4 linked regions of the Homo sapiens genome follow. The protein of the gene in region 3 binds, or shares a complex with, the protein of the main gene of each other region. Each region holds a gene or a part of one and is shown on either strand. Other genes may lie near its edges. The genes, in order: TIMM21, CMC1, SMIM20 and COA1.

The links.
Region 1: SMIM20 (region 3) and TIMM21 share a complex: the UniProt entries of both Homo sapiens proteins name them as parts of the MITRAC (mitochondrial translation regulation assembly intermediate of cytochrome c oxidase complex) complex.
Region 2: SMIM20 (region 3) and CMC1 share a complex: the UniProt entries of both Homo sapiens proteins name them as parts of the MITRAC (mitochondrial translation regulation assembly intermediate of cytochrome c oxidase complex) complex.
Region 4: SMIM20 (region 3) and COA1 share a complex: the UniProt entries of both Homo sapiens proteins name them as parts of the MITRAC (mitochondrial translation regulation assembly intermediate of cytochrome c oxidase complex) complex.

What each region holds. Positions count from the first base shown.
Region 1 is NC_000018.10:74,158,492-74,161,041, forward strand, and holds the end of TIMM21 (mitochondrial import inner membrane translocase subunit Tim21 precursor), read left to right. Parts: 3' UTR 1-2,040; downstream 2,041-2,550. UniProt on the Homo sapiens protein: Participates in the translocation of transit peptide-containing proteins across the mitochondrial inner membrane.
Region 2 is NC_000003.12:28,244,598-28,251,638, reverse strand, and holds part of CMC1 (COX assembly mitochondrial protein homolog), read right to left. Parts: intron 1-7,041. UniProt on the Homo sapiens protein: Component of the MITRAC (mitochondrial translation regulation assembly intermediate of cytochrome c oxidase complex) complex, that regulates cytochrome c oxidase assembly.
Region 3 is NC_000004.12:25,909,951-25,917,256, forward strand, and holds the start of SMIM20 (small integral membrane protein 20), read left to right. Parts: upstream 1-4,269; 5' UTR 4,270-4,363; coding exon 4,364-4,472; intron 4,473-7,306.
Region 4 is NC_000007.14:43,719,501-43,726,541, reverse strand, and holds part of COA1 (cytochrome c oxidase assembly factor 1 homolog), read left to right. Parts: intron 1-7,041. UniProt on the Homo sapiens protein: Component of the MITRAC (mitochondrial translation regulation assembly intermediate of cytochrome c oxidase complex) complex, that regulates cytochrome c oxidase assembly.

The sequences.
Region 1 (2,550 bases), on a different chromosome or scaffold from region 3:
TGATGGATGTTGAATGGCGTGGACTCGCTACTCCGTTCTTCACAGCTGCCTTCCAGAATGTGTTCAAAAGAAAGACAAGAAGGAGTGTATGGCTTATAAAGTGAATCTAATACAGTATTTGTTGCATTTAAACAAACTAGACATTTTCTTACGGAAAAATTATGAAATACAGCATATTTTATGTTCTCCCATTGACTCAATCATGACAATATTTCTGCTTTAACACCATCTTTCATGATTAGAAATGTTTGTTATTGGAAATGTTACACCATGTAAATAAAGGAAATAGATTTTAGTATTGTATTCATTTTATATTATAGAACTGCATAATGTCTGCAGAATAAAATTAAAACTAACAAATATGTCATTAGCAGCTGCCCTCCGCATACTTTGGAATCTGACTTGAGATAAGCATGTGAAAATGGTTGAGGGCCATAGGGAACCAGATGGTAAATACATTCTTCAAAATTGTGTGAGTTTTAGGAATCTGTCTCATATTTCGCGCTTCATGAATTAAGGGCCTAGTACATAGCGGGAAAAGTACACACTCCCAAGTTGGGTAGACCTGGGCACCCACCCCACCTTTTCTAGCAGGTGCGTGGTCAAGTGTCCCTGTTGTGTGGGTTGTTAGGATGGCAGTGTGATGAGAGGTACAAGCCTGGACCATAGAAGGCAGCCATGAAGTGCCCTCATCCCCTTTAGAACTTACTTGCACTGATACTTCTGACTGCCAAAAGAACATGGGAGTGAATGAGAGACATTCAAATACGTGTGTGAGGCCCCTTAAAGAAAAAAAAAAAAAAAAAGGAAATTCTATTTTATTTGAAATATTTGCTGGGGATTTGGAAAAAAGTGACCTTCACTTACAAGATCCTGATTCCATATCTATGTAAGTGCTATGTGCATTGGGAGGGGTCTAGAACCATGTTTATCTGCGGTGGCTTCAGTGTGAGGTATCCCCTCTGATGTGTTTGTTCCTTCTCCCCGAGAACTGTCTGTAGAGGAATTTCTGATGTGTTCTTGAAATTTTGGGATATTCAGGATAGAGAGACCTCCAGGCAATCTATCTCCCCTTTTTACTTTATCTCCCTGCTTAATTTAGTTAGTTTCTTGGTTTGACTGCTTGTTTTAGATGTTTTTAATTATAAAAATTTCCAACATTTAAGGAGTATAGAAAATATAACAGACACTCGTCTCCCTGACGTAACACACTTTGACTGAATGAGGCCTTAACTTAGGCTTTCTCTCCTAATCGTTTTTTCCTTTGCTATAGAATGTTCAGTTTCAGGATTCACTGAAATGTCAACATTTAACAGGCTGAGAAGTTCCACTTGCTATCCTAAACTCAAAAAAGCAGCCCTGCTCTTCAAACAACCTGCTCAAACTGTAGCTTGCTGAAGAAGCCCGGCATCTGAGCTCAGGTGGGGATTTAGCCACCCTCCATGGCCCTGTCATTTGACTTAAGACTGTTTGCTTTTTCTGTATTCATTTTTATGCACCTGCCATTTTACAATATGCTCATGCCCCTTTAAGATCTGAGCTTTTGGCCAGGCGAGGTGGCTCATGCCTATAATCCCAGCACTTTGGGAGGCTGAGGCAGGTCAATCACTGGAGGTCAGGAGTTCAAGACCAGCCTGGCCAACATGGTGAAACCCTATCTACTAAAAATTCAAAAAAAAAAAAATTAACCAGGCACGTTGACACACTCCTGTAATCTCATCTACTCAGGAGACAGGAGAAGCGCTTGAACCCAGGAGGCAGAGGTTGCAGTGAGCCAAGATCATGTCACTGCACTCCAGCATGAGTGACGGAGTGTGACTTCGTCTCAAAAAAAAAAAACAAAAAACAGATCTGAGCTTTTATAATTAGAAATAAAACTAAATTACTTTTTCAAAAGGAAAAACTCTGTACCAATAAGAGATTCTTCTGTATAGCCACAGGAAAATGTGATGTGTAACTCTCTAGATCTCTGTTTTCATTCCCTCTGATGTACCCTACTAAATGTTAAAATTTCTGTGTTTTAAGACCCTCTTTAATCCACTTTGATTGTGGTGTCTCTGTCCATGGGCTTACTCCCACTTTTTCTCTGAATTCTAGGGCACTTATCTGACTCTGCCTGGTATCCCCTTCCGTCATATTTGTGAATTTGCAAATGCTCTGGTCATTTTCCTCCAAGGCCTCTGTCATTCCTCCACACCTGATCAGTGAACTCTTTTCACAACTAACTCTAGAGCAGACTCTCCTGTCACTGTTTGCTCTTCCTCCTTAATGAAGAAATTATATGCAAGGCAAGAGTTTATCAGAAGTTCTGCTTTTAGCCCCGTGAGATTTCCAGCCTAACTACCCTGCAAGCTCCCTTCATAACTATTGTTGATCAATGCTAGTAATACTTTATCCATTTATTTCCATTTGGTAAGCCATTACAATATTACTTCTGTTTCTCTTATTCTCATCCAGAGACAGTTCCCCAATTCCTAATTCATAGATTTCTACTCAGGGTTACACTTACTATTTATTTTATATAGTACCACTCATGTGTTCCATCTGTTA
Region 2 (7,041 bases), on a different chromosome or scaffold from region 3:
TCAAAGACTCAGCCTTTGCTCAAATCACATCATCTTTCTTGGTATGGCTTCAGAGCTAATCTGAAGTAAACATGAAAACCAGTTCCATAATATAACTTTTTTGGGGTGGGAGCAATATGGTTTGGATATGGTTTGTCCCCACCAAATCTCATGTTGAAATCTGATCCCCAGTGTGGCAGTGTAAGGAGGTGGTCCCTAATGGGATGTGTTTGGGACACGAGGGCAGATGTCTCATGAACAGCTTTGTGCCCTTCTAGCAGTAATGAATTCCTGCTCTTGCTGGAGTGGACTAGTTCTTCAGAGTGGGCTGGTTCTCAGAGAAAATGACTAGTTCCCAAGAGACTGGATTGTTGTAAAAGTCAGGACACCTCTCACGTTTGGTCCCTCTTCACACATGCCCGCTTCCCCTTTGATCTTCTCTGCCATGTTCTGACACAGCATAAATGTTCTCATCAGAAGCCAAGCAGATGCCATGCTTCCTGTATAGCTTGCAGAACTGTGAGCTAAATACACTTCTTTCTTTATAAATTACTCATCCTAAGGTATTCATTTATAGCAACATAAAACAAACTGAGACAAGGGAAGAGGCAGCATTTCCCAGGATGATCGTCTATCACCTTCACCAGACTGTCTCTGGTTAAACCTTGGCTGAAATTCAAATTAACTTTCAGAACAAAGATTTGCCAAAATGAGGATATTAAGACGAGTGTACTGAAGAATCCAAAGGGAAATCTTAAAGGAGTTTCAAAAATATCCTGAACAATGGTAACAATACTAGAACTATACACACTTCCAAGGTAATATCTGTACTTAATCCTCCTGGGGCAATCCCACAAGGTTCCACCTTTAAAGATAGTGTTTATGATACTGAGTTCTCAGTGCTCATCTCCATCTCCAACTTTCCACATTTTCAACTATCTACTGGTGGTTTCTAAGTCCCACCAGCAGCTCAATTCCAACTTAAATTTCCTACAATGTAAACCTTCATTTTGCCAACCTAGTGGTTATGTTACCCTTCTTACCTGAAAAATCGGCTTATAGTTATATAGTACACAGAAGCAACACGATAAATATTTACAGAAAGAAGAAAAGGGTGGTGGATGGAACTGGTTTACAAACATCATCTCATTTAGAAGCAGATACAAAGAAATTAAGACTCAGAAAGCTCAAAGCAATCTTGCAGCATTACCCGGCAAGTAACAGGTAAAGCCAAACTCTAGTTCAATCTCAGTCTTTATTTTCCATCTTCAACCTCTTATTTTTTGTTATCAAAGTTTACTTATTTAAAACTCAATTCAACATTTCTCCATCCCAAAGTTCTTCCTGACCTCCAGCACTAAAAAGTGATTTCTCCTTCCTCTAACCCCAAGATTTTGCCTGCACTCGTTCTGTTGCTATAATCACACCTGGACTTAAACACATCACATCACACTATATATCCAATCTTCTCCTGCTAGATCAGTGGTTGGCATGAGTTGAATTGTGTTTACCATTCTCCAAATTCATATGTTGAATCCCTAACCCTCAATGTGACTGTATGTGGAGACAGTGCTTTTGGGAGGTAATTAAGGTCAAATGCGGTCATAAAGGTGAGGCCTTAATTCGATAGGATTAGTGGCCTCATAAGAAGCAGAGGGCTCTCTCTCCTTCTCGTTCTCTCCTCCTCCTCCCTCAACCTCCTCTTCCCCCATCCCTCCCCGCTCACTGCCATGTAAACACACAGGGAGAAGGCAGCCATCTGCAAGTCAGGAAGAGAGTCCTTGTCAGCAACCAGATCTCCTTGAATCTTGGTCTTGAACTTCCTAGCCTCCAGAATAGTAAAAAAAATTAATGTACATTTTTTAAGCCACCCAGTCTATGTTGTGTGGGTCACTCAAGTCAGTCTATGGGATTTTGTTATGGCAGCCTGAGTAGACTAAGACAGATTTTGGTACCAGAAGCTCTCAACCCTGGCTGTACCCAAGAACCACCTGAGAGGGCTGTACAAAATTCTTAATGCTTGGGCCCCACCCCAGACCAGTTAAATCAGAAATGCTGGGGTAAAAGCCAGGCATTGATATTTTTTAAGGCTCCCCAAATAATTATAATATGCAGCTAGACTGAGAACTACTGCAAGTAAAAGTTAACTTTAATGAGGTCAGAGACCACGTCTAACTCATCTTTGTAATTCCCTCTAACTCCTAGCATATGGTAAATATGCAATAAAATTGTTTTAACTGTTTAACAAATGACACGTATATTTAAAAGAGTTTTAGTATTTGATAGTTACAGATACACTGTAAACAAATACGTATGTACCTATTATGTACCAATCACCACACCAGGGATTGTGTATACAATAATGAATCAGTCAAGCAAGGTTCCTTACTCTGCAGCATAAACATGTGATACTCTACATTCCAATTAGTCATGTTTAGGTAATTAACATATCTTTTGATCTGTAAGAATCTCCCAGTAACAGTTCTTTAGCAAAACACAATGCAGGATGGTAAACACCACATTCTTAGCAATTTTTTCCTTCAATCTTCTTACTTAAAAATGCAAAAATAGGCTGGGCGCAGTGGCTCACGCCTGTAATCCCAGCACTTTGGGAGGCTGAGGCAGGCAGATCACAAGGTCAGGAGATCGAGACCATCCTGGCTAACACAGTGAAACCCCATCTCTACTAAAAATACAAAAAAATTAGCCGGACATGGTGGTGGGCGCCTGTAGTCCCAGCTACTTAGGAGACTGAGGCAGAAGAATGGCACAAACCCAGGAAGCGGAGCTTGCAGTGAGCTGAGATCACGCCACTGCACTCCAGCCTGGGCAACAGAGCGAGACTCTGTCTCAAAAAAAAAGAAAAAATGCAAAAATAGAACAGAGGATTGTCGGGGAGAATGTTAACTTGGGTATCAATAGTTTTATTTGGGCACAATTTTGTTTGGTCCACTTATATCAAGTACAAGGTAATACTTCTCATATTTTTGACATCTACAGAATTTTACACATATGATTTTAACACCCCAAACAAAAAATTAAAAAAGATACTAATCCAGGCAACAAGACACAAACTTGAATTTATTTCTGTGTGGAGTCAAGAACCCCTTGAGACCTATGACAAGTATTAATATTTAGAATCATAAAAGTTCAAGGCTTGAAGCAACCTTAGCAATTATCTGATACATCTCTTTCCCTACTTCTCATCCTCAAACCTCATATTATGTCATTAAGGACAGGTTAATGACAAAGTCTGAGACAATAAGTCAGTCTTACTAACTCCCAAATTCGGTGTTGATTCCACAACAGTACACTACCTCCCTGGGAGGAGGTGGCCAATCTTCTATAATCTAGGTGAAATTAACTGACCTATCCTTTTATCTGGTCTCTAATGAATTTAAAGAGGTGGATTCATATGAAAAATATTTACTATTTATTACACAGGTAGAACATTCCCATTCTTCAAATTATGTTTTTCTTTATTTCTCCAATTATTTGTTACATATAGGCGCATCATATCTGAATAAAAGGTTTCCTTTTATTCGTCAAAGAAAAGGATTTTATATCTAAAAGGAAAACAACTCTATACATAGGTTATATGATATTTTGGTGGAGTTTTTAATCCTAAACCTTAAAAAAAAATGTTTAACTGGAGGTGGTGGCAATCAGGAAAACTCTCCTAAGAAACTGATTTTAAATTGAGTTGTGAAAAATGAACAAGAATTCAGTAGACCTGGGGATAGGGAAGATGGGAGAAATTCTAGAGAGAACAGCATGTACGATGGCCTAGAAGACAAAAAAAAAAGTACAGCTTAGCCTACCTTAGGTATATCTTAAGCCAGTGTTATTCAAACTTGTTAACCACAACCTGTGACACTTTACTGGATGCAGTACACACACCTGTGTGTATGTATACATGTGTGCAAGTACCCATTCCTATCTGACCTGTCACTATCTGAACTCTCACTACTATCAAAACTCTTACTATCCAACTAAGATTCCTAACAGATTCAGATAAATTATTTTTAGGATAGAGCTGGTATCCCTCCTGCAGCAGAGAATGTTGGAGCATTCACATCTGCAACCTTCTCAGGACTGCCCCTGGCCATGGTAGCCCTTTGCTGTTTTCCTTGCTGCTGTCCCTCTCCCAACTACTACAGTAACCAATGACTGAAAAAGGGCATGAAAGCCCAGCTCCCTTGCCTCCAAGGCACAATAAACTGTATGTACCATGTGGTACACCAGAGCTGATTAGGTTAAGACCTGAAACCACATCCTTGCTCAGATTTTTCCCCTCCCGTCTCCTATTTTCCTTACTCTCTTAAGGGTTTTTTTTTTCTTTTCCTAAAGGCAATCTATTAATAAACCACCCAAATTACATGCAGTTCTAGTGACCAGCTCTTACTCTCTAATACTGTGCCCAAATAAAAGGAACCAGGGCTTCTCAGAGAAATAACTAATTGTATGGATTGGCCAGGGTAGGTACAAGATGAAGCAGTGATACCTTGTGTGAGGGAATAAAAAGGAAATGCTCAAAAAAATGGTGAGAGTATATGACAAAGATCCAGAAGCTAGCTTAAAGGGAACTCTGGCCAAATCTGGGGAAATTTGAACACAAAAAATACTTATGTACATTAACAGAGTACAAACGATTGAAAATACAGCAGTTCATGAGTCCTTACCAAAAATACCAATAATAAATTCATAAATCAATGAAAATGAAACAAAGCAATCTCTTGCTTACAGTAAAATGTCAACAACCATCTAGTAAATGTGAAGGGAGTGTGCTGGAGGTAGAAAATCATTATTTTGCAACCATTATGGGAAAGACTGAATCAGGTAAAAAAAAAAAAAAAAAAAATCAATGGACCCCAAATCAAAGAGAAATATTTGATGAGAAGCAAATATTTACAAGGTCTTAACCTTCCCACAGATTAGTTACTAATTGCAAAACAGAGAAAATACGGCAACAAAACAGGGCAAAACCTTGAGTGGGTAATCAAAATTAACATCACCTACGAGAGACAGATACCCATGTACCTCCAGATGGGATACTCTGGAAAGACACATCATGTATGCAGTATGTGGCTGAGATCAAGGTTATTCTTGATCTAAACAAAAGTCAGATCAACACAAAATAAGGAGAGTTCTGTTTGTCACTCCGTTACCTAAAAACTTGCAGTGTCTTCCCATTGTTCTTAGTATAAAATTCAAAATCCTTGAAATGGTTTACAGATCATTTCATGCTTCAAAACTGAAATCCCAACCCCCAACCCACTGCCATGGCACATACTCCTCTTTGATCTCAATTCTTCTTTCTTATTGTCTTTGCTTAAGCCTGTGTTTTTCAAATTTCACAGAGCAACCATCAGAGAGTTGTTAATCCGATGAGACAAAAATAATGTATTTTCTATGGCAAATATGCTTTTAATTTATAAATATACAAAATGTAGATGTTAGGTCTTTTTTTTTTTGTTCTGAGCCACCAACGTAATTTATGTCTAAGAAGATACTCTAGAGATATGGCGGCAATAATAAAATCAAAATTTTTCTTATAGGCCAGGCAGGGTGGCTTATGCCTATAATCCCAGCACTTTGGGAGGCCGAGGTGGGCAGATTACTTGAGCCCAGGAGTTCAAGTGCTCCTGAGCAAGGAGTTCAAGTGCAGCCTAAGCGACATGGTGAAACCCCATCACTAAAAAAAATAAAAAATTTTTCTAATCAACTCCACAACCTTTTACATATTAAACATACAATGCTCAAAAAAGATTCTTCAAGTTTGTTTACATGTCTAACTTAAAATTTTCTAGTAAATGTAAGGGCTAGTACTGTTCCTGTACCCCTAAAGGTAATTTACCTACATTCCCACAGGAACCACTGAAAGAACCCCAACTTGGAGTACTGCAACCCAAATGTTCCAAGAACATCCATAATTAAATCTTCCCAAGACACATATACCTTAAACACCTTCTCATGGAATGTCATGAAATTCTTGAACCCACTTTCCACCCCCTAAGCCCTATCTCTGTCCCATCTTCCTCCTTTTATTAAGTTCCCGGAAAAAAACAGCAATAGAAGGACACAGGGACACACACACACCTGATTAAGGAAACTTCCCTTAGGCTGCCATGCCCCATTCTGCATAAGTAGAGAATGAATCTATGTTGACAGAGGGAAGAGAACCTAACTAAAAAGGGGAAAGGTCAAAGAAGGGAGAAAGGAATTACTTTAGTTGATAGAGAAAGTGAAAAATCAAATTTATCAGGTGCAGGTTCCTATGGGCCATCATCTGAGAATATAATCATGTCTGAAAATTTGTCCGGAACATGGCAATAAGCAAAGATTGCTGTTATTACTGCTACATTAACAAAAAAAAGGAAAATAATGTAAATAAAACTATGTATAAGCATGTAACCTGCATTTTTTCGCTGGGTTCACAGTTTCTTGAGGAAAACAGAGACCCTACAAAGTTAATTAAAAGTTGCTGCCAAATGAAAATCAAGCTTCTATAAAGATCACAGAAAATACAAAATAAACCAATAGGAAAACAGATTTTGCTAAATGAACCTCAATTGGTGTATCTATTATTCACTTACTCAATATGGGCAAATACCATCGTGGGCTGTACAAAGCAGTAAAACATCAAAATGTGAAACTAAGCTTCAACGTATGAACCAAATAAACACGAAATTAAAAAAAAAAAAAAACTGGCTTCCATACATTTTATTCTGGAATTTAAACAGACAAAACAATTTAGGGAAAAAAAAAAAAACCTTCCTACTTGCTGACTCCACTTTTTTACTCTCCATTGCTTCCATTCCTTCCTTTGATGAAGTTTCCAATAATCACATTGTTAGATTTGACCATGACCTTCCACCCAGCTGCTGACGTACAAAAACTGGAATTATCCCTATTTCCTCTTTTTTTTTTTTTTGAGACGAAGTCTCACTCTGTGGCCCAAGCTGGAGTGCAGTGGCGCAACCTCGGCTCACTGCAACCGCTGCCTTCCAGGCTCAAATTCTCATTCCTCAGCCTCCTGAGTAGCTGGGACTACAGGCGTGT
Region 3 (7,306 bases):
GTCTGAACCCTGTGCGATACACCACTGGCAGTCTGCTCCCTGCAAGCATTCAATCTTCACATCCAAGGGAAGAGGGAGAAAGTGCCAGAGAGGAGCCCAACCCAATTCTTCCCCCCAGTGATTGAGATGAAAATATGCACCCTAGGACTGCCGACATATCTGACTTGCATCCTGTCTCCCTACATCCCTGGAGCTCTCTCTCCCTTTACACAAATACGTTCCCCCAAACTCAAACTTCCTTTGCCTTTCCCAAACATTAGCACAGTGATGAAGCCCCAAGTGCTTTCATCCATGCCATGTGTAGGAGGTAATTGTGTTAATTTCTGTATCTATTAGCACTCCTGGTGGCATGCCACTGAAACTGACTCTAACTTAAGTCCAAAGGGACTTTATTGGAAGCATATGGGGTGGCCTGCAGAATATAATGAACGCTCAAGAATCAGACTGCAAGGGGAAACAACCAGGGAAGCTCCAGGATTACAGGCAAGTGGGAGGTATACGATGATCACATCAGAACATTAGCAATGGAAGACAGCTACTCCAACAATGCTGTCCGTCTTTGCGTCACTGTCTTCATCGTCCTTATTTCTGGGAGAAAAAGAACAATTGGACCAAATGATCCAGCTGGATCATCCCCACACCCAGGCAACCAAGCTCCCTGACATCATAAAACATTGTAGATTGGTGGTTAAGAGCAGTATCTGGAACTAGCCAGGCTCGGTTTGAATCCTGGCTCCACCATTTACCAGCCATGTGATCAAGTCATTCTCAGTATGCCCCAGCTTCCCCCTCTGAACATGAGGATACCTATCCATAGGTATTGGTGAGCACAAAGTGAGCAAACCTGTGATACTGACTATAGAGGGCAAGTGTTCTACAAATCTTGATGTTAGCATTGATTAGGAATACACAAGGCCCCTGAAATTGCAGTCTATCCAAAAATGCCAAGATAAGAGGTCATTCTCCAAAAGACATCAGTTTTTATCAAGGCACAGTGGGTGGCCAAAAAACAATTACTATCCTCTACTACATCTTATCCCTCCACCAGACTGTGGACACCATGAGGACAATAGATTCTGCTGTTTTCCTCACCGCTGTGTTCACCAGCACCTGAAAAGCATCTGGCATATTGTGCCTGGCTCAATGAACCATTACTGAATTCACAAATATTGAATGATTCCTTCTGTGTTCCCAATCAACTAGTACAATGTTTTGCATGGGAGTAGGCACACAATAAGTATTTGCTGATTTAATTGATAGGTCAGAGGGAAAAGAAAAACTGGAGGAGTGTGGTTTTCTCAGAAATGGGGAAAACACGGGAATCAAAGAGATGAGCTTGCATTTGGCAGGACTCAGTGGCAAGTAAGTGATAGGTAACTGTTTTCTGGTGTGTTGATGTCAATTACCTATACAAATGATCTAGATGGCCTAATCATTTCTGCTGGTCAACTAACGCCTTTAGATCAGCATCAAGGAGACAAGAGAAACCACGAGTCACTTGGCACATCACCTTGGAGAGGGAGAGGCTCATCTGCCACAATGGACTTGTCCTTGCCTTAGAGGCACTCCCAGTACCTCATCACGATGCTCTGTTCTCCTGGCAACGCTCCTTACTGGCTTGCAGGTGCCCGTGAGCAGGGCTTGGCTGGCCATCCTGCCAAGCTTGCTCATGGAGACAGCAAGATCTCATGGAGGAGCATTTCAGATCAGACATCACAAGAGCTAAGACCTCGGCCAATGCTGTGTGACCTCAGGAGAGTTCTGGTCTCTGGCTGTCAGTGACCAGATCTATAAAATAGAGTAATCCTTGCCTTGCAGCTCAGTAATCCTTGCCTTGCAGCTCCAAGTGGAGTCACATCCTCAGAGATTTTATCTGGAACTCCTTCTGTTGTAAAAGACAGAACCCAACTCAAACTGGCTTCAGAGAAAGGGGGACTCTATTGCTCATGTTACTGAGCAGTCTAGGGGTAGAGCTCTTCTGAGATACAGCTGGCACAAATGCAACACTAGCATCTGATTTCTCCCCACCTCTCAGCCCTCCTTCTGCTGTACTGACTTCCTTTTCAGTTCCTAAATGATGGCCCCCAGTAGCTCGAGTCTCATTCGCTCAAGTTCAAATCCAACTTTCCAGTAGCTGGAATAGACTATGGTTGGCTCAGCTTGGGTCATGTGGCCAGGAGGATGCAACTACATTAGGTGTTCAGGACTGACTCCTAATCAATACTAACCTCAAGACTGAGTCCTGGGTGCCAACCAATCCCTGTGACGAGGAAGCTTGGTCAGGCCCTTATGCTTAACTTTCAGAGCTGGGAAGAAGTAGGATGAGGATGGGGAGTCCTAGGTTATCTCATGGACCAAGAGTGGGAAAAGAGTGGGTCCCAGAAAGATACTTGGGGTACTATTCACAGAAAAAAGGGAAGTGGCCACAGGGCTGATAAAACGACGATGCCCACTACACCTGGGTATTTTCTTTCTTTTTGTTTTTTGTTTCTTTTGAGACGGAGTCTCACTCTGTCACCCAGGCTGGAGTGCAGTGGAGCGATCTCAGCTCACTGCAAGCTCTGCCTCCCAGGTTCCAGCTATTCTCTTGCCTCAGCCTCCCAGGTAGCTGGGACTACAGGCGTGCACCACCACGCCCGGCTAATTTTTTTGTATTTTTAGTAGAGACGGGGTTTCACCATGCTGGCCAGTCTGGTCTCGAACTCCTGACCTCATGATCCACCCACCTCAGCCTCCCAAAGTGCTAGGATTACAGGCGTGAGCCACTGTCCACAGCCCTCACCTGGGTATTTTCTATCGTGTGATATAAAGCTGGTGTCACAGTTCCCTCTGTGCTATGAAGTCTTCTGTCCTCATCCTAACAAGCTCCTGTAAGTGCCCGAGGAGCAGCTGCCACACTGCAGTCATCTGTCTTCCTCCTCTGAATTTCTGTAGCCCGCAGGACCATAACACGTGTCGGCAGCACGCAATGTCGGTCATTAGTTATCTTTTTATGGATATGTTCTATCTCTTCATCTATGCGACAGGATCCTAGAGAGCAGGGGTCACATCTTATTCATCTTTGTGTCCCCTTAGCACTCTGCCTGGTGTTTGGGGCATGGCAGATAGTCCATGAATCTGGGGAGAGATTGAATAACTGATTTACATGCTTCTAGAGCCACAGAGGTAGACAGTAGCTTGATGCAACTACAAGATTACAAAGAAAGAGGAAACCTGTCCTCTCCAAGCTATTTTGAAACGCTTGTAGATCTGTTGTGGCCTAAATAATGCTGCTAGGGTCAAGACAGATATCCTCTTTGCTCCCCAGGCCCAGCTGCTGGCATGATTCCTATTTATAAAGGCATGGAGGCCCAAGGAATCTGTGTCTCAGCTGCCCAGTATCCCTGGGCAGGTCATAGTCAGGCACAGCCCACTTGTAAGGGCAGTGTGGTGCAGAGGGCGGAGGATGGCAACTTGAGGAGGAGGAAACAGGTATCTGTTCTCGGTGGCCCCCACCCAGACAATACGGAAGCGCCCCGTGGCCCCATGGATGGGACCGGATGCTGGCTCTCTGCCTTGGCCAAGGCATCCCAGCACAGGGAACAGGGAGAGAGGATGGGATGGAGGGAGAGAGGATGGGATGGAGAAAGAGAGTAGCTCGGATGCTGAAACAACGTTCCTCCTAGGCTAGTCTTGGTGCAGAAGCCCCGCAGCTCCGGTTTTAGAATCCCCCAGCAGGCCCTCTCGGGCCAGAGATTTGCCCCTTTGTCTCTGATACGTACAAACCTCCCTCAAGAAGGACGAGTGACTCGTCCAAAGCCGCGCAGCGGAGCCGCGGTTCCCTCTCCTGTAAACTAAGCAGACTGATAAAAGGATTAATTGCGCGAGCGACAGAGAGCATCTGGCGCACGGCGGACAGTCGCTAATTAAGAAATTAACGGGGGATGGACGAGAAAGCTGGCTGGTAAAGAAGGCGATGGTAAAGGAGGTCTGGAGGGTGCTGAGGGAGGAACCGGGCCGAAGGAAGGAAAGTAGACAGAACAGGGCCCGCGGGAATCGAGTGCAGCAAAACAGCTCCAACCTCAATCCAACGCCAGCGCCCGGCCCGCACAGCACGGAATCCCGGGGAAGGCGGAGGGCGGGGTCCGAGGCCCCGCCTGTGACCCCACCCCTTTCCTGGCCCCGCCCCCAGCCTTGAGGCCCCGCCTCTGACTCCACCCCTGTCTCTTTCTCCGCTCCGCCCCTCCTCCTCGTCCCTCCCTCAAGGCCCGGAAGCGAAAGCCTCTCCACCTCTTCCGAGCGGGGTCACGGCCCGGCCGTCGGTAACCTGGTTTCCGAGAGTGCCGGGCGGTCGGCGGGTCAGGGCAGCCCGGGGCCTGACGCCATGTCCCGGAACCTGCGCACCGCGCTCATTTTCGGCGGCTTCATCTCCCTGATCGGCGCCGCCTTCTATCCCATCTACTTCCGGCCCCTAATGAGATTGGAGGAGTACAGTGAGTGATCTCTAACCCCTTGCGGTGACCTGACTCCCCAACACACACACCTCCCCTCTGTGAGCTCCACGTGGTGCCGTGGAAAGAACTTGGCTCGAGGGTTAGGGAGAGCCGGGTTCGAATCCTGCCATGTGCAGCTTTGTGACCGTGGACAAGTTGCTCAACCTCTAGGACTCTCAGTATCCTCATCTGTGAATGTTTGTGGCTACGTCATCTATGCTAAAATGCCGAGCCTCCTGTGAGACTCAGGTGATCATGTATATGAAAGCAGTCCTCACATAAGTCGACGCTAAGTACCAGTTCATATTTACAGTTAAAATTCACTGAATGCCTATTACACGTCAGGTTAGGCATATGTTGGATCGTTTCATTTGCACAAGCTCACCTTGAAGTATATATGTAAAACATGCCCATTTTACAAATGAGGGAACTGAGAGGCTCAGAGGTTTTATAACGTTCCCAAGGTCACACAGCAAGTAAGTGACAAGGCAAATATATCCAACCCCAGGCCTCTGTCCAGAGCCTCCTCCAAGCACCCAGGCTGAGAATGGTGACTGGGGGAGCCAGATGGAACCCTGATCCTTCTGAGTGGAAAGGTGCTTTTACTGCACTTCATTTCCACTCCCCAAGATGTTTTTTGAGTGGGACTGTTTCAAACCCAAACTGTTAACCTGGGGTTTGTAGTGTTTTCTCTTCTTTTTCCTCAAATTGTTTTTCCGATTCTGCTTGTTTCCTTCGTTTTAAGCCGATTGCTCACATGGTAATGGTGAAATCCTGGGAGTAATTTTCCTTCTTAATCATTCCAGTCCTATCATTCTAAAAGCCAAACTCTTCTTCCTTGAGACCTATACCTCAGCAAGGATTAGCACTTTGATACATCTGAAACCATCTGTCAGACAGAAAATATTAGGCATTAGAGGCTCATTTTGTTCACCAGGAAACCCGAATCATCTTGAAGATGGAAGAGGGCCAACCCTGTCCCTTGGGAATATTAACGGACACTGAAAGCTTGGCGAATTGAAGGCGAAAGCTCCGTGTAAATGTTCTGCCCATTACAAATGTTGCAGCAGTCGATTTCTGGAGGCAGAGCGTTTTAAGTGCACACTCAGATTTCCTTGTAGCTTCTTTTCATTAGCCAAGACTGAAATGGCCACTGTGTTCTGCCTTCCAGCTTATCTGCATGCACCATGCGTGGGAGTAAGGTGGGCTGTGTGAAGCCCTGCGGGATCTGTTTCCACCATCCTTCTTCAGCGGACGCCTGCCCCAGCGATTATATTGAGGCCACTAGAACTTGGGACAAAGGGTCTGCTTTGCATCCCATTGGAAAAGTCAGTTCTGAAAACTAGAGCTGTGGTTCTCATCTAGGGGTGATTTTGCCCCGCAGGATATTTGGCTCAATCTGGAGACATTTTTGCTTGTCACAACTTGGGATGGGGCGGGGGGGGGGTCGAGTGTTGCTACTGGTTTCTTGTGGATAGATGCCAGGGATACTGCTAAACTTTTTGCAGTGCATACAAGACAGACCCCCATGACAAAGAATTACCCAGCTTAAAATTCGAGTGGTGCCTTGGTTGAGAAACCCTGCTTGAGATGAAATGGTCAAGATGGGGACTTGTACTGTGTATCCCAGCAACAGTCTTTTAGGGATACTCCAGAATCTGTGGTTGTCTGAATGTCTTGAGACAGACAAATCAGGTGATGTTCATCTGTGGGTGAACATTTAGTGAATGTAACTATAATATCTGCATTTTTAACTAGAAGGCAGGCAGTCTGTGCCTTCCCACTTTTCTGGTTCCTTTTTGTTTTTTTTTCTTTTTTTCCGCTGTCACCCAGGCTGGAGTGCAGTGGCCTGATCTCGGCGCACTGCAGTCTCCATCTCCCAGGTTCAAGCAATTCTCCTGCTTCAGCCTCCTGAGTAGCTGGAATTACAGGTACCTGCCACCATGCCCAGCTAATTTTTGTATATTTTAGTAGAGACAGGGTTTCACCATGTTGGCCAGGCTGGTCTCGAACTCCTGACCTTAGGTGATCCACCCGCCTTGGCCTCCCAAAGTGCTGGGATTATAGGTGTGAGCCACCACGCCTGGCCTCTGGTTCCATTTTGATTAATTTGGCCAACTCTTTTCTGGGGATCGTAACTGATTCTTTTTTCTGAGACAGTCTCCCTCTGTCGCCCAGGCTGGAGTGCAGTGGCATGATCTCGGCTCACCGCAACCTCTGCCTCCCAGGTTCAAGTGATTCTTGTGCCTCAGCCTCCCAAGTAGCTGGGAATCCAGGCATGCACCACCAGTCCTGGCTAATTTTTGTATTTTTAGTAGAGACAGCATTCTGCCATGTTGGCCAGGCTGGTCTTAAACACCTCACCTCAAGCGATCCTCCTGCCTCAGCCTCCCAAAGTGCTAGTGTTACAAACTGACTGCTGTAACATTTGTAATGGGCAGAGCGTTTACACAGCTTTCGCCTTCAGTGCCAGCAACTGATTCTTTTAAACAGGTAAATATTGCTGAACAGGTAATATTTGTGGGAAGTTTACTATATGTTTGGCACTCTTCTAAGCACTTCCTATATATTAACCCATTTAGTGTTGATAACAGCCCTTTGTGGCAGCTGCTATATGATCATCATCCCCATTTTATATGTGGACAAACTGAGGTGTGAAACAGTTAAATTACTTACACAAGGACCTACAGCTGATGAGTCACAGATCTGGGACTTGAATTAATATCCTTAATCCCTAAACCAAGACAGCATACTGCTTGTCTAAGGGGGCAAGAAAAGGCAATGGGGGAGATGAGTGTCTGCATAGCCTACTAGATGAATGACCCTCATCTAAG
Region 4 (7,041 bases), on a different chromosome or scaffold from region 3:
TTGTCTTTATTGATTTTTAGGAGTTCTTTGTGTAGGGATTTAAGCCATTGACTGTTAGATATGTGGCAGATATTTTCAATCTATTTAGTTAACTTTGTTTTATATTTTTTACTATATTGTTTTACATTTTTGTGTAGTCAGGACTTTGCCTCTAAAAGCCTTCTGGCTAATAGTTTAGGATATTGTTCTTTAATTATAGGAGTTATAGAAACTGACATAGTAGTTCCCAGTTAGTGTGACATCTGAGTCCCTGGTGGTATATTTAGCCTAAGAGTGTTCATTGTTTCAGACATTGTTGCCTCCCTGTCTCTCTGCCTTGAAAAATGTGCCATGATCTGCTTCAACTTTGTTCATTTAACTCTCTATTTTAAACAGACTCCAAGAAGTTATTCTTTTATCCTCTTGTTCATGTTTCATATGCTGCATTAGATTTGTGAGAGCCATATTGGACAGTTGGTCACCAAATAGTAGGTACTTTTTTCATACTAGCAGGCATTTATTTGAAGATTATTTAATGTATGCAGAGGTTGAGTGTAGCTATTGTGTTCTGTATTGTTTGGGGCATGTTGGAAAAAGTAGTTTTATAAAATCCTATTAACATTGTTTTGTATTTTTTTAATTTTGTTGGTTAAAAGGCAGTAGTAGTAATATATATAGTATATATATAATATATATATTTTTTGAGATGGAGTTTCGCTCTTGGTACCCAGGCTGGAGTGCAATGGTGCGATCTCGGCTTACTGCAACCTCCGCCTCCTGGGTTCAAGTGATTCTCCTGCCCCAGCCTCCTGAGTAGCTGAGATTACAGGTGACTGCCACCATGCCCAGCTAATTTTTTTGTTTTATAGTAGAGACGGGGTTTCACCATGCTGGCTAGGTTGGTCTGGAACTCCTGACCTCAGGTGATCCACCGCCTCGGCCTCCTAAAGTGCTGGGGTTATAGGCATGAGCCATTGCGCCCAGCCAGTAGTAAAAGTATTTTTAGAAACTGAGCATTTTGAGAATCTAAGGAAAGTGATATACAATAGCTTCCAGAAAAAAATTGCATCTCTCTGTTTACATATAATGGCCAAGATTTCATTCTTTCCCCTTGGCTTGATTCCAGTTAGAACTGTGTGTTTCTTGTTTCAGTGTTTTGTCTTTTCTTTTTTAAAATTGTGATAGAATATACATAACATAAAATTGGCCATTTTAACTATTTGTAAAGATACAGTTCAGTGCCATTAAGTACTTTAACATTGTTGTGTAACCATAACCACCATCTATCTCCAGAACACTTTTTTCTTTTTCTTTTTTTTTTTTTGAGATGGAGTTTCGTTCATGTTGCCCTGGCTGGAGTGCAGTGGCGTGTTCTCAGCTTACCGCAACCCCCACCTCCCGGGTTCAAGTGATTCTCCTGCCTCAGCCTCCCGAGTAGCTGGGATTACAGGCATGCGCCACCACACCTAGCTAATTTTGTATTTTTAGTACAGACGGGGTTTCTCCATGTTGGTCATGCTGGTCTTGAACTCTCGACCTCAGGTGATCTGCCCACCTCAGCCTCCCAAAGTGCTGGGATTGCAGGCGTGCGCCACTGCGCCCGACCCAGAGCACTTTTATCTCCACACACTGCACCCATTAAATGATAAATCTCCGTTCCTCCCTCTTTCCAGTCCCTGGCAACTACCATTATATTTTCTGTCTATGAATGTGACTATTCTAGGGTCCTCATAAAAGTGGAATCATAAAATATTTGTCCTTTTGAGTCTGGTTTATTTCATTTAGCATGTCTTCAAGGTTAATTCATGTTGTGGCATGTGTTGGAATTTTCATTTTTTTAAAGACTGAATAGTATTACATTGTATTCCATAGAACACATTTTGTTTATCCATTCATTAGTCGATAGATATTTGGGTTGTTGCCACCTTTTGGCTATTGTGAATAGTGCTGCTGTGAACATTGGTATACAAATGTCTGAGTTCCTGCTTTCAATTCTTTTTTTTTTTTTCTTTGAGATGGAGTCTTGCTCTGTCTCCCAGGCTGGAGTGCAGTGGTGTGATCTTGGCTCACTGCAACCTCTGCCTCCTGGTTCAAGTGATTCTCCTGCCTCAGCCTCTCGAGTAGCTGGGACTACAGGCGTGCACCACCACGCAGGCTAATTTTTATATTTTTAGTAGAGACAGGGTTTTGCTATGTTGGCCAGGCTGGTCTTGAACTCCTGACCTCAAGGGATCCGCCCACCTCAGTGTCCCAAAGTGCTGGGATAACAGGTGTGAGCCACCGCGCCTGGCTGTGCTTTCAGTTCTTTTAGGTATACGTATCCAGAAGTGGAATTGCTGGATTGTAGGGTAATTCTGTTGATTTTTTTGAGGAACTGCCCGTATGCTTTAGTGTTTTTGTTATTTGCATAAAAGATGAGATTTAAAGGAATTGTGTAATTTAGGCATGGATTATCACGTTTACCTTTCCAAAGGACTATTTCCTACTTGAAGGGGTGTAGGTGTTTTTGTATTAGGACTTGGAGATCTTTGAGTTTTAAAATTATTGCAATTCAGACTAAATAAAAAGTTTATCATGGATAGTTTTCCAAATTGTAAACATCTCTATGATCCAAGATTTTTTGGTTTTTGTTTTTTGAGACAGGGTCTCACTTTGTCACCCAGGCTGGAGTGCAGTGCCATGAACATGGCTCAGTGCAGCCTTGACCTCATGGGCTCAAGTGATCCTCCTGCTTTAGCCCCTCAAGTAGTTGGGACTACAGGCACATGCCACCACGCCGGGCTAATTTTTATATTTTTTGTTGAGATGGGATTTTGCCATGTTGCCCAGGCTGGGCTCAAACTCCTGAGCTCAAGCGATCCGCCCACCTCAGCCTCCCAAAGTGCTGGGATTACAGGTGTGAGCCACCTTGCCTGGCCTTTTTTTTTTCTTAATGCTTTCTGTGTTTTTAGTCTTTTTGGGGAAATTACCCATCATGACAGACTCTAAAATGGAGGTGAGTTTGCAAACTTGTATAGTTCCAAAAGTCTGTGAATTATTCCGGTATCATACTACTGCTCCATTTGGATGCTTTGGCAATTACCCTGGTGTGCTGTGACTATTGCTGCTTCTGACAGGCAAGTTTACCTCCCTCAATGCAAATATAACCATGTCATTAGTTGAAGATTAGGAGATGACCAGCATTATTCTCTTTTACGACTGTATCATTCTTTTTTCAACTATTCTCCTGTTGTTGGAACTGCAAATTATTGTGGGTACTGCAATCCATTTGAATAGCTGTGACCTCCCAGGGATCACTGGGAAAATGTAGAAAAACAGACAACAGTGTGGCTCAACCAAAACTTAGAAAACTAAGATTGCATGTAGCTGCCAGATCCTGGGAACAGGATGGCTTAAGGGCAGCCCTAAGGGATAAAGGGTAGAGGATTATATGTGTTACACCCTTTCTACCAACCTCTCCCTCCCATTGCAACAGCTTTCATAAGGTCTCAGTTTAATATTTCATTATTACTTTACAACCCATATCATTTTATTAACAGCAAGTATATTATCAGGAGAGATGGGAGGAACTGGTATCTTAATGTGACTTTTGCTCTTAGTTTGGGTCTCTGTCATTTGGACTCTGGTGATCTTTTATCTTGTGGGCTCTTGGTGCCTTAAGACATTTGGCATTTGCAAATGTACTGGAAAGGTCCCCAGATGGACTTAGATGTTCCAGATCTCGTGGAACTTTGATGTCACTTGCATTCATAAGTGATCTAGCAAATACCAAGATTACATAGATGCCAAGCACCCAACTTTCCCTGTTTATGCACCAGCTTTTTGAGGGAGATGAAATGCAATCACATAAAGAATGTACTAGCTGGGCGTGGTGGCTCATGCCTGTAATCCCAGCACTTTGGGAGGCCAAGGCAGTCGGATCACTTGAGATCAGGAGTTCCAGACCAGCCTGGCCAACATGGTGAAACCCCGTCTCTACTAAAAATACAAAAATTAGCTGGGCGTGATGGCATGTGCCTGTAGTCCTAGCTACTCGCAGCTGGTACGAGGCACAAGAATCTCTTGAACCTGGGAGGCAGAGGTTGCAGGGAGCTGAGATTGTGCCATTGCACTCTAGCCTGGGCGATAGAACGAGACTCTCGTTTTGTCGTAGGGAAAAGCATTTCCTAGCCAGGCGTGGTGGCTCATGCCTGTAATCCCAGCACTTTGGGGGGCCAAGGTGGGCAGATCACTTGAGTCCAGGAGTTTGAGACCAGCTTGGGCAAAGTGGCGAAACCCCATCTCTCTACTAAAAATACAAAAGAACTAGCTGGGCATGGTGGTGCACACCTTTGGTTCCAGCTGCTCAGGAGGCTGAGGTGGGAAGATCACCTGAGTCTGGGAGGTCGAGGCTGTAGTGAGTTGCAGTGGCGCCACTGCACTCCAGCCTGAGTGACAGAGTGAGACCCTGTCTCAAAAAAAAAAAAAAAAAGTTACCAGAATCAACGGTGAATGTCCTAACTTTTGGTTATAGATTGTTCCTCTCATTGAAATGTTCTGTGCTAGGGGCAAAGATTGACTTCTGGTGTGCAATGGTAGTCTTTAGAAACACTTCTACATCCATATTTAAGTATGTCAGCATGCAGTATTACATTAGAATCTTTCTAATGTTTTTTGGGCTTCAAGCCTTTGAGCTATAAGTAGCAAAACTTTGAAATTTATGTGAATACTTTCACATTATAACTTACGACTTTTCCCATGGTACTGAGTATTTGTATTCTCTTACCTTGTTTTTTTTTTAAATTACCGTACAGTAAAATAAACTTTTTATATTATAAATTTTAACCCATGTACTGATTTCTATAACCAACACCATAGTCAGGATGCAGAATAGTTGCCTCACCTCAAAAACTCCCTAGTGCTATCTCTTCATGGTTAAATCTTCCCCTTACCCAAATAACCAAAACCAAAAAGTAAATGCCATTTTGTGTTTTTATTGTGGGAAGCAGTTACATTACATCCTTGCTTTTCCTCTTTATTAGGGATTTAATCTAAGCATGTTGGGCTAGAAAGGATAAAGTCAACAGTCTCTTCATTTTTTTTTGAGAAATTCATAAACTTTCTCATGCATTTAGTGTTTAGGAATAAAAACATTTGGCTAGTTATCTCTTCCAACAGGTGGCAGTGTTGTGCTATATAATAGGATTTACTAATAAAGATTGTGGCTTTTTGTCAGCTGGACGATAATTGCTGTACATTTTTTACATCAGAAAATCAAGATGGTTAATTAAGAACTGACATTTAACTATTGAAATTATTTTTTAAAGTCTATTTCAAAATTCATCTTATTCTTGTAATGTTACTAGTAAAGCAGTCTATGGATAAAAGTATTCCTTAATACATTTGTATTTGTTTTCAGTGTTTGCAGAATTATGAATTAACTCTTTCCTTAAGGTTAACCTTTGTAGCGGGAATAACTCCAGTGTTGTGGATGAATCTGTGAGTAATAGAGGCTTATCAGTGTGACTTCAGATGTTTTATGTTTCAGCCTTCTCTATCACATGTAGGAATCCCTTTATAACATCTCTGGTAGTTGGTGGCATTGATCAGTAAATGGAGCAGCCATGGAAGAAAGATACAGGTTCTAATTGCCAGCATCCTGATTGTGAAGCCTTAATGGAGATGTTCAGTGAGAAATGATGAAGAGGAAGCTTGTGAGACATTTGCACTTAGGTGACTCATAGGTTTTCGAAGCTAACCCATCCAAAAAATGGATTCTCTTTTTCTTTATACTTCCAGCAACTTAATGTCTGGCAGTATATACTTCCCTAGGGACTGGGGCTGCCATTCATCCAGAGGCTCCTGAGTAATATCCAGGGTCACTTTAAGACCTCTCAGTGTTCTCTAAATTCTACCTCCTAAATATTTTCAAATATGGCCACTTCATCTTTACCTCTCTCGTTGCACAGAACAATGATTTTTCACCTAGATATACTGCTTCCTAATTGATCTGCCAGGATATATTATTACCCCTATTTTTCACACAGCAGCCATTTTTAAAAAATGTAAAATCTGATCATGTCACTCCCCATATTTTTATTCTTAAACAAGTTTGTGAGAAAGTTTGTAAGTTTCTGAAAAAAAAAGAAAAAGGAAGGGGACCATGTTGATTTTATCCTTTCTAGTCCATCATACTTAGATAAAACGCTTAATAAAGAGGAAAGGCAGGGATGCAACATTACTGCTTCCCACAATAAAAACACAAAATTATACTGAGCATTGGAACTCTTTTTTTCCTTTTTTTTTTTGACAGAGTTTTGCTTTGTTGCCCAGGCTGGAGTGCAGTGGTGCGATCTTGGCTCACTGCAATCTTTCCTCCCGGTTTCAAGCAATTCTCCTGCCTCAGCCTCCCGAGTAGCTGGGATTACAGGTGCCCGCCACCATGCCTGGCTAATTTTTATGATTTTAGTAGAGATGGGGTTTCACCATGTTGGCCAGGCTGGTCTTGAACTCCTGACCTCAAGTGACCCGCCCACCTTGGCCTCCCAAAGTGCTGGGATTACAGGTGTGAGCCACCATGCCTGGCCTTTTACTTTTTATTTTACGTAGAATAAACCCCAAATATTTAACTTGACCCACAACATTCCTCCCTCCTCCCTGTTCTGTGATGTGGCCTCTCTTCTTTCTGTTATAGTCTCATCTCATGCCAGTTTCCCCTTGTTCACTGTGCTCCAGCTTCTCTGGTGTTCTCTTTGCTCCTTGATTGGAGGAGGTGGGGAGAATAGATTCAAGGAAACCTGTTTGTAAGCAAACATACATTTCAGGTAATGAAAACAAGGCTTAATACTATATTGAAATATGTGGGTCAGGGGACATTTTCATAGTAGTCAGGAAGCCATCCATCCCTTTGTCACTTTTCAACTCCTCAGACTGAATCTAGGGATAAATGCACACCTGAGTACAGATTCGGTGTGTGGGGAAAGTTATGTTCTAATAGAAAAGGAAATTTAGAACTCGACAGTGATTACCTGTAATACTGTTAGTTGTGGATAATCCTTTATATTTGGTAGCTCTCACTTAGTT